2 linked regions of the Homo sapiens genome follow. The protein of the gene in region 1 purifies or fractionates together with the protein of each later gene. This does not show direct contact. Each region holds a gene or a part of one and is shown on either strand. Other genes may lie near its edges. The genes, in order: PTER and ABCE1.

What was found.
Region 2: the proteins of PTER (region 1) and ABCE1 fractionate together in Homo sapiens (co-fractionation; one large-scale study listed by BioGRID). This does not show direct contact.

The regions. Positions count from the first base shown.
Region 1 is NC_000010.11:16,485,442-16,489,272, reverse strand, and holds part of PTER (N-acetyltaurine hydrolase), read right to left. Parts: intron 2,922-3,831; coding exon 2,656-2,921; intron 1-2,655. UniProt on the Homo sapiens protein: N-acetyltaurine hydrolase that regulates feeding by catalyzing the hydrolysis of N-acetyltaurine into taurine and acetate. N-acetyltaurine has anorexigenic and anti-obesity effects that are dependent on GFRAL receptor and GDF15.
Region 2 is NC_000004.12:145,118,483-145,122,313, forward strand, and holds part of ABCE1 (ATP-binding cassette sub-family E member 1), read left to right. Parts: intron 1-1,449; coding exon 1,450-1,671; intron 1,672-2,691; coding exon 2,692-2,751; intron 2,752-2,850; coding exon 2,851-2,909; intron 2,910-3,831. UniProt on the Homo sapiens protein: Nucleoside-triphosphatase (NTPase) involved in ribosome recycling by mediating ribosome disassembly. Able to hydrolyze ATP, GTP, UTP and CTP. Splits ribosomes into free 60S subunits and tRNA- and mRNA-bound 40S subunits.

The sequences.
Region 1 (3,831 bases):
AACCAACTAGAACTTAATAGGTAACAGAAAAACCATGTAGTTCTCAACATTATAAACCAAATATATTGGCTAAGTGACAGATTGATTCCGTTGGAAAGAGAAGTAGTAAATAGGAAGATCAAACTGAAGAAATTATAGCTCAGTGATGCACGTGGATGGAAATATGAAAGAGGTGTTAAGAAATACAGAGTATAGGTAAGAAAGCCCTACATATATCAAATTGGAGTTTGTGATACAGATGATAAATAACATGTGAGTGAAACAGTATTTAAAGAGATAATGGCTGAGGCTTTTCAGAAACAATGAAAGGTACATCCTTACATTCAGGAATCCCAAGGAATGCCAAGCACGCAATTAAAAGAAATTTATGACCAGGTACAATGGCATATGCCTATAGTCCCAGAACTTTGAGAGGCCAAGACGAGTGACTTGCTTGAGCTCAGGAGTTTGAGACCAGCCTCGGCAACAGGGCAAGAACCTATCTCTACAAAAAATATAAAAATTAGCCAGGTGTGGAGGCACATGCCTGTAGTCCCAGCTTCTTGGGAGGCTGAGGTTGGAGGATCACTTGAACTTGGGAGGGTGAGGCTGCAGTGAGCCAAAATCATGCCACTGCACTCCAGCCTGGGCAACAGAGAGACAGACTCTCTCTCTCTCTCTCTCTCTCTCCATATATATATATATATTTAAATTAGTAGAAATGCAGAATACTTGAACATGATAAATGATTATGTTCTAATAGACATATAGAACAATTACACTGTATAATAACTGCAGAATGCAACGCTTTTAAGAATCTAAAACATTTTATAAAATTTAAAAGTATTAGTGTAATACATTTTTGAAGGTATGAGGTACTTCACAATGTTTAAAAAGTATCATCCTTACTCAGTAAATGTGCTACATATATCCCATATCATACAAGGCAACATTATAAAATACATTGTTTTAAATTCAAATTAAGCTGTCCAAGATGTTACACCAATGAGAGTTAGAATTCAAAGTTCTCACTGGGTCCAAAGAGTCTAGTTTTCACAGTCTGATGCATTGTCTCTGTGACCAGTATATAGAAGCATGCCTCTACTTTATCAGTGCAACCAGAAGATTCCTCAAGATAGCCAAGTATGGATCTTGATACCAACCTGGTTGCCAGGAGAATTACCTTTATCCTATTATGCCTCAGTTTCCCCATTAATACTGACTTCTCTGTTCTGCTATAACTACAACTTGTTTATATTTCCTGCACATGATTTCACAGTATTTTTTATTAAGTAAAAGAATTTTTTTTTTCTTGAGACAGGGTCTTGCTCTGTTGCCTAGGCTGGAGTGTAGTGGTCATGGTTCACTGCAGCCTCATAAGGAGAGGCATTTTATCAATACATTTTGCAGGACTGTTAGTTTATGAAATAGCAATCTGTCTGGTCTGATAATCAGGATTTATCAATATGTTAATATGGCTTTACTCCAATAGGCAAGATAGAAGTAACTATAATATATTATTAGTCTCACTGGTGCTGTATTAATTCTATAATAAATTCAACTGAAGGCTAATGAGTAGCCTTAGCAACAGTTAGACTTGTTCATAAAATTAACAGCAGCTGGCATTTCTTCATTTAGTCATTCATTTTACTGTCCCCTATGCATCTAAAATAATATGTAGGGATTAAATGGTGAACCCCAACAAGATAGGTCCATATTCTAACTCTTGGAACCTCTGAAAGTGACATTATTTGGGGAAAAGGTCTGCAGATATAATTAAGTAAATGATCTGAGATGAGATTATTCTGGATTATCTGGACGGGCCATAAATCCAATGGCAACTGTGGTTGTAACAAACAGAGGAGAAGACATAGACAGTGAGGAAAAGGCTATGCGAAGACAGAGGCAAAAACTGTAGTTATGCAGCCACAAACCATGGAACAGCTGGATCTGAGGCTATGGAAGAAGCAAGGAAAGATTCTCCCTGCAGCCTTTGGAGGAAGCGGGGCCCTGACAAAGTTTCATTTCAGACTTCTGGCCTCCAGAACTTTGAGAGACTAAATTTCTGTTGTTTAGGGGCACCCAGTTTGTGATAACTTGTTACAGTAGCAATAGGAAACTAATGCATGATACTACCCAACACATGCTATACTTATTACTATTATTTTTTATAATTGCATTTTCCAAAATTCAGATGATTCAAACCACAAGTGACACAAATGTGAACATTTATATTTGCGGTTTTCTTCTCTGGGTGAAACCATTGACATTCCCTCCCTTTATATGTGTGATAACTTTATTACTCCAACTACTGGTAAACATTGAGCAAGTGGAATTGGCAGCTACTTTGATAGCATCCCATGAGACAAAGAAATGAAGTAGACAGTGACACCTGTTATGAGTTATAAAGGATTGAGTAAATTAAAGGAAATGACTTATGCGAAATATCTTATGTGAAATACCTAGGACACTATCTGACACAGAGGAGGGACACAAAAATGGCAGCATTGACTTTTATTCATGTCAGTTGTGAAACTTTATAAATACTACCTTCCATATAGTTAGTGGTTTTCTCTGCGTGATTAGTATTGCATTGACTGATTACTGTAGATTCTTAATTTGATCATGCATTAATTATATGGCAGTTTGCATCCATTTGTAAGACAGCCTACTTACCTATCCAGGTGTGACATGACTGTTTTGGAGATGTCTGCGCCTGCTTCTTGCAATATTCGGATAATCTGAAATGGTGCCCTGGAGCTCCGTCCAGGATGGATAATAACAGGACAACCAAGCTGAGCCTGGGCATGAGCTGTGGCCTGGAGAACCTTTCTTTCACTCTCAGTCAAAGGCCAGGAGCAACCAATTTCTCCAATAATGCCACACTTGATACTGGTTCCATCAGCTCCATGGAGAATTTCATTCATAAGGACATCGGTAAGCTAAGGAAGAGTGAGAAGGAATATATTTTATAGGTTGTGAAATTTATCAAAATAGATCCACCACAGTATGTGAATGAATTTATTTATTTTGTCATTCATTCTTTTAAAAATGTATTCAGTATTTATCAATTAATATTGGCCAAGGAAAAAGGCATTTTGCTGGCCAAATCAAAAATCAACAAGTTGCACTAAATCCAAGATTCGATAATATCATACCATGATTATTTAACAAGAAATTTATAGCTTTAGGAAGCTGGAGGGGGACAAAGTGACTTAATGAGAGTACATTCAGGATGAAGCAAAAAAAAATCTGTAACTTAACCTGGGGAGCAGCATCTAGAATATAGAAAGACCGCCAATGAATTGAATCTATGTCCCGTGTATCAAGTCATTCTTTTTCTTTCTTCTTTGTTTTTTTTAAAGAAGCAGAGGTCTCACCATGTTACTCAGGCTGGACTTGGAACTCCTGAGATCAAGTGAACCTCCCATTTCAGGCTCCCATGTAGCTAGGACTACACGCTTGCATCACCGCACAAGGCATCAAGAAATGCTTTAATTCTCTCCTATTTATTCCAGTCTTTTATCATAGACAGCATAGAAAATTCACAGCACACTATACTACTATTAGACTTTTGGGTTCATATGTATAGTTACCACTAAAAGTGGTTGGAAGAATATATAATCCTCATCATCAGCATAGTCTTTAAACAACAAAAATACATTAAAAAAATAAAGTCCTGGTTGGAAAATAATGCAGAAAAAATTTTGAAATACAAAATACTCCAGAGAGTAAGTGATCTTTTGCAAAGAATGAGCTGACACCCTATGCCTGTCATGCAGGCAATGGAAGATACATACGAATATATACATATATGTGTAAACATGTATAAATAGATACATGTGTGTTTAG
Region 2 (3,831 bases), on another chromosome or scaffold:
TCTTGCCAGTAGTCTTAAGGGATGACATCAGAACAAATTTATTAATGTTTTATTCTTGTCAATTAACAAATATGTATTGAGTACCTTACTCTATACCATATGGTAGTCTTTGAATCAAGTTGATAATAATATGGGTACTCGGCAGTCATTCTTCACAACTCCAGTTATAAATGTCATGTCTAAAGGCTGTGCCATTCAGTAAATGGTACCCAGTAAGGTTTTTAATGTGCTCGATCTATTAAAACAGCTTAAGAAACTTTAGTTTTTCTCTGTTCCTTTAATATATTGAAATCAGTGCAGCATACTTAAAAGCTTTCTATAAACTGTAAAGGTGATTATGGTTTGAACTCATTTTTAAATTGACAAGACAAACATTGAAGTAGGACTGTAAAGACTGACTTGCTGTGTTTTTTTTAAACGAAGTCACTTAGTTCTTTGAGCCTTTATTTTCCAAAATAAGTTAGGTATTTGAACCAAGTGGCTGCTAAGGTTCCTTTGAGTTTATGTTTTTATGTAATTGTTTTTATTTAATTTTTTAACTTCACATTTATAGGTTTTAGATAGTTTAAGATCAAAAAACATGCTGATTTTGGCAAAATAAATGTAATCTGTTCATTTGTTCTGTCAGCAAAGATGTATTGAACACCTGTGTTCTAGGATGAGGATACAGGCTGCATGATGTGTCTCTCAGTTCCAAATAAAATGAATAACGTCAAGACCTTCCAAGAAACTTCAGCTTTCTCTTCACTTAAATATAGGAAACACTGAAATATGGATTATTCATTGTTTCTCAAATACGCTTTTCATTTCAGTGTGTCTGCCATTGTAGATCTTAAAATTTTATTACAGAGGGTTCTTGTATACAATGTGGATTTAAGTTATTAAAATCTGTTTAGATAATGGTTGTTATCTTTGTACAGTGAAGCCATTAAAAAAATGTTAACTGGAATTAGCTCATATTCAATTTCATATGAACCTGCAGGATTAATTTTTTTAAAGCAATAAATTATAACCTCAAAATATGTGCTTATGTCTCATATGAAATTAAATATTGATAACATTGTATATTAAAAAATTTATCCCCCAAACTTTTATATCAATATTACATCAATCTGAAAATACTCTTACATATTTGTCATTTTCGCTTTAAAGATAAAGCAAAAAGGACATCATGTGCTCTCTTTTGCATAAAACCTGATGGAAAAAGTAATTACAGGATAATGAGAAGATGTACTTCATGTGGTTGGGGGGGACATGCATATATATTCATGAATTATTTAAACTTACATTAAATATATATAGTTTTTTAAGTTACTTCTTTATATGCAGACCAACATGTTAGCAAAAATCCACAGAAATTTAAAGTATATAGTCTATAGATTGCTCCCAAGAGAGCTTAGGATTTTGGCTCTAATGATTTCTCCCGGTTGACAATTTTCTTCCCAACAGGCATAAACATTTTTTTGGATGGCTATGTTCCAACAGAAAACTTGAGATTCAGAGATGCATCACTTGTTTTTAAAGTGGCTGAGACAGCAAATGAAGAAGAAGTTAAAAAGATGTGTATGTATAAATATCCAGGAATGAAGAAAAAAATGGGAGAATTTGAGCTAGCAATTGTAGCTGGAGAGTTTACAGATTCTGAAATTATGGTGATGCTGGGGGAAAATGGTAAGTTTTCTGTTTTGTGATAAGTAAAAATCTTCCTGTTTATCTAGTAAATTAGTTTTAACTGTTTTGTGGAAAAATTTGAATCATATGTTATAGGGCTAGAAGCAGAGTTTTATTTAAACCCACAAATTTCTTAGTGTACTTTCACATTTTTTTGGCATTGTGTAATTCAATTTCACTGTAATTCAATCAGGTTAATAGTTCTTATTTTGTTTTATAACCTCTAGTGAAAATAAGGTGTTCTTTGTCAGCTGGTTTTTTACATGTAAATTGATAAGGCAGTTATTAATCTTATAAATTGACTAAGATGGAAAGGATAAATGGTGATTCAGAAATAATCCAGCTTTAAAAATTTTTTCCTCATACACTTCAATGTGGAACTTTTCTTATTTTAAATTCAGAGCAATCTACCTTTGTAAATAATTGTATTACCAGCATATATTTCATAATAAATTGTCATAAGTGTAGATATAAGATGAATTTGACTACTAAATATGTGATATTGCCTTCATGATTTAAGAACTATTTGAATTGTAATCTTACAGCTTACAAAACTATAGAAGATAAATTTTATATAAAGATTGTTACAATGTATCAGTCTTTAGATAATGGGAATTTTGAATTGGGTTGCAATTAATTTAAATATTTTATATAAGTAAACTTTAAAATTACAGTTATCTTTCATAAAACAGTCTATACTGTCTTAATAAATTGTGTGCCCTGATAATTTAGCTAAGTAGATCTTTTCAAACTATTGCAGGATTTAAACTTTATAGACATACCATTTATTAAAATTGTCATAAGCTTTGACTAGTCTTTATTCCTCTTAATTACCTTAGAATGACACTTCAGAGGTGAGCCATGAAAGACTTAAGTATTTTTCTATATAAACTTCAGAATTCAATAATGTCAGTGTATATCTTTAAAACAAATTTCTCAGTTAAAACCAAATAGGACATAGTGATTTACTTTAAACGTCAAGCATCTTTCAGATCAAACTGTCATATGTTGTGTTGCCAGGAACGGGTAAAACGACATTTATCAGAATGCTTGCTGGAAGACTTAAACCTGATGAAGGAGGTACATTTGTAACTGTTGAGTCTTTTTACTCTGTTTTACACAGTAAACTTTAAAGATCTGGGCAGTTTTTAGTGTCTTATGTATTTCATTATTTTGCAGGAGAAGTACCAGTTCTAAATGTCAGTTATAAGCCACAGAAAATTAGTCCCAAATCAACTGTGAGTTATTATTTTTTATATGGTTACTAAAGAAAATTTTGTATATATGCCTATAGCTTTCATCTTTTACTATATTAAAATTTTTCTCCAAATTAGATTCTATACAGTTTTATTGATAGTTGCAAACAAATGTATTAAGAGTCCAATCCTTGATTCATATCCACTGCTAAGAAAGTGCTTTAAAGATATTTGTCATCTTTGGCCGGGTGCAGTAGCTCACGCCTGTAATGCCAACACTTCGGGAGGCCTAGGCCAGCAGATCACGAGGTCAGGAGATCGAGACCATCCTGGCTAACATGGTGAAACCCTGTCTCTACTAAAACTACAAAAAACTAGCCGAGCGTGGTGGCAGCGCCTGTAGTCCCAGCTACTCAGGAGGCTGAGGCAGGAGAATGGCGTGAACCTGGGAGGCAGAGCTTGCAGTGAGTGGAGATTGCATCACTACACTCTAGCCTGGGCGACAAAGCGAGAGTCTGTCTCAAAAAAAAATAAAAAAATAAAGATGTTTGTCATCTTTTTGCTAAATAAATAATTAAAAACCTAATGTATTTTGTGCTGCAAATTGACAACAGCAAGAAGGTGAAAAGGCTTTACCCACAAGATGGGAGAAACATTTGCACATCATATATCCAATAAAGGACTTGTATCCAGCATGTATAAAGAACTCTTATAATTAAAAATGAGCAAATGTCTTTTAGTTATTCAGCCATAAAAAGAAATGAAATATTAACAAATGCCACAGTCCTTGAAACCATTCTGTTAAAGTTAACCTCCTTTGATTTCTGCGGGTGTTGTAATGAACTCCTCAGTACCTCAACATTCAATTTATGTTTTGTCTACTTGGCTTAGCTTACCATAAAAGTTTTGTCATTGATGCTCTCTATAAGCTTAGCTTTAAATTCTAAAATTCAGCCTTATCCTG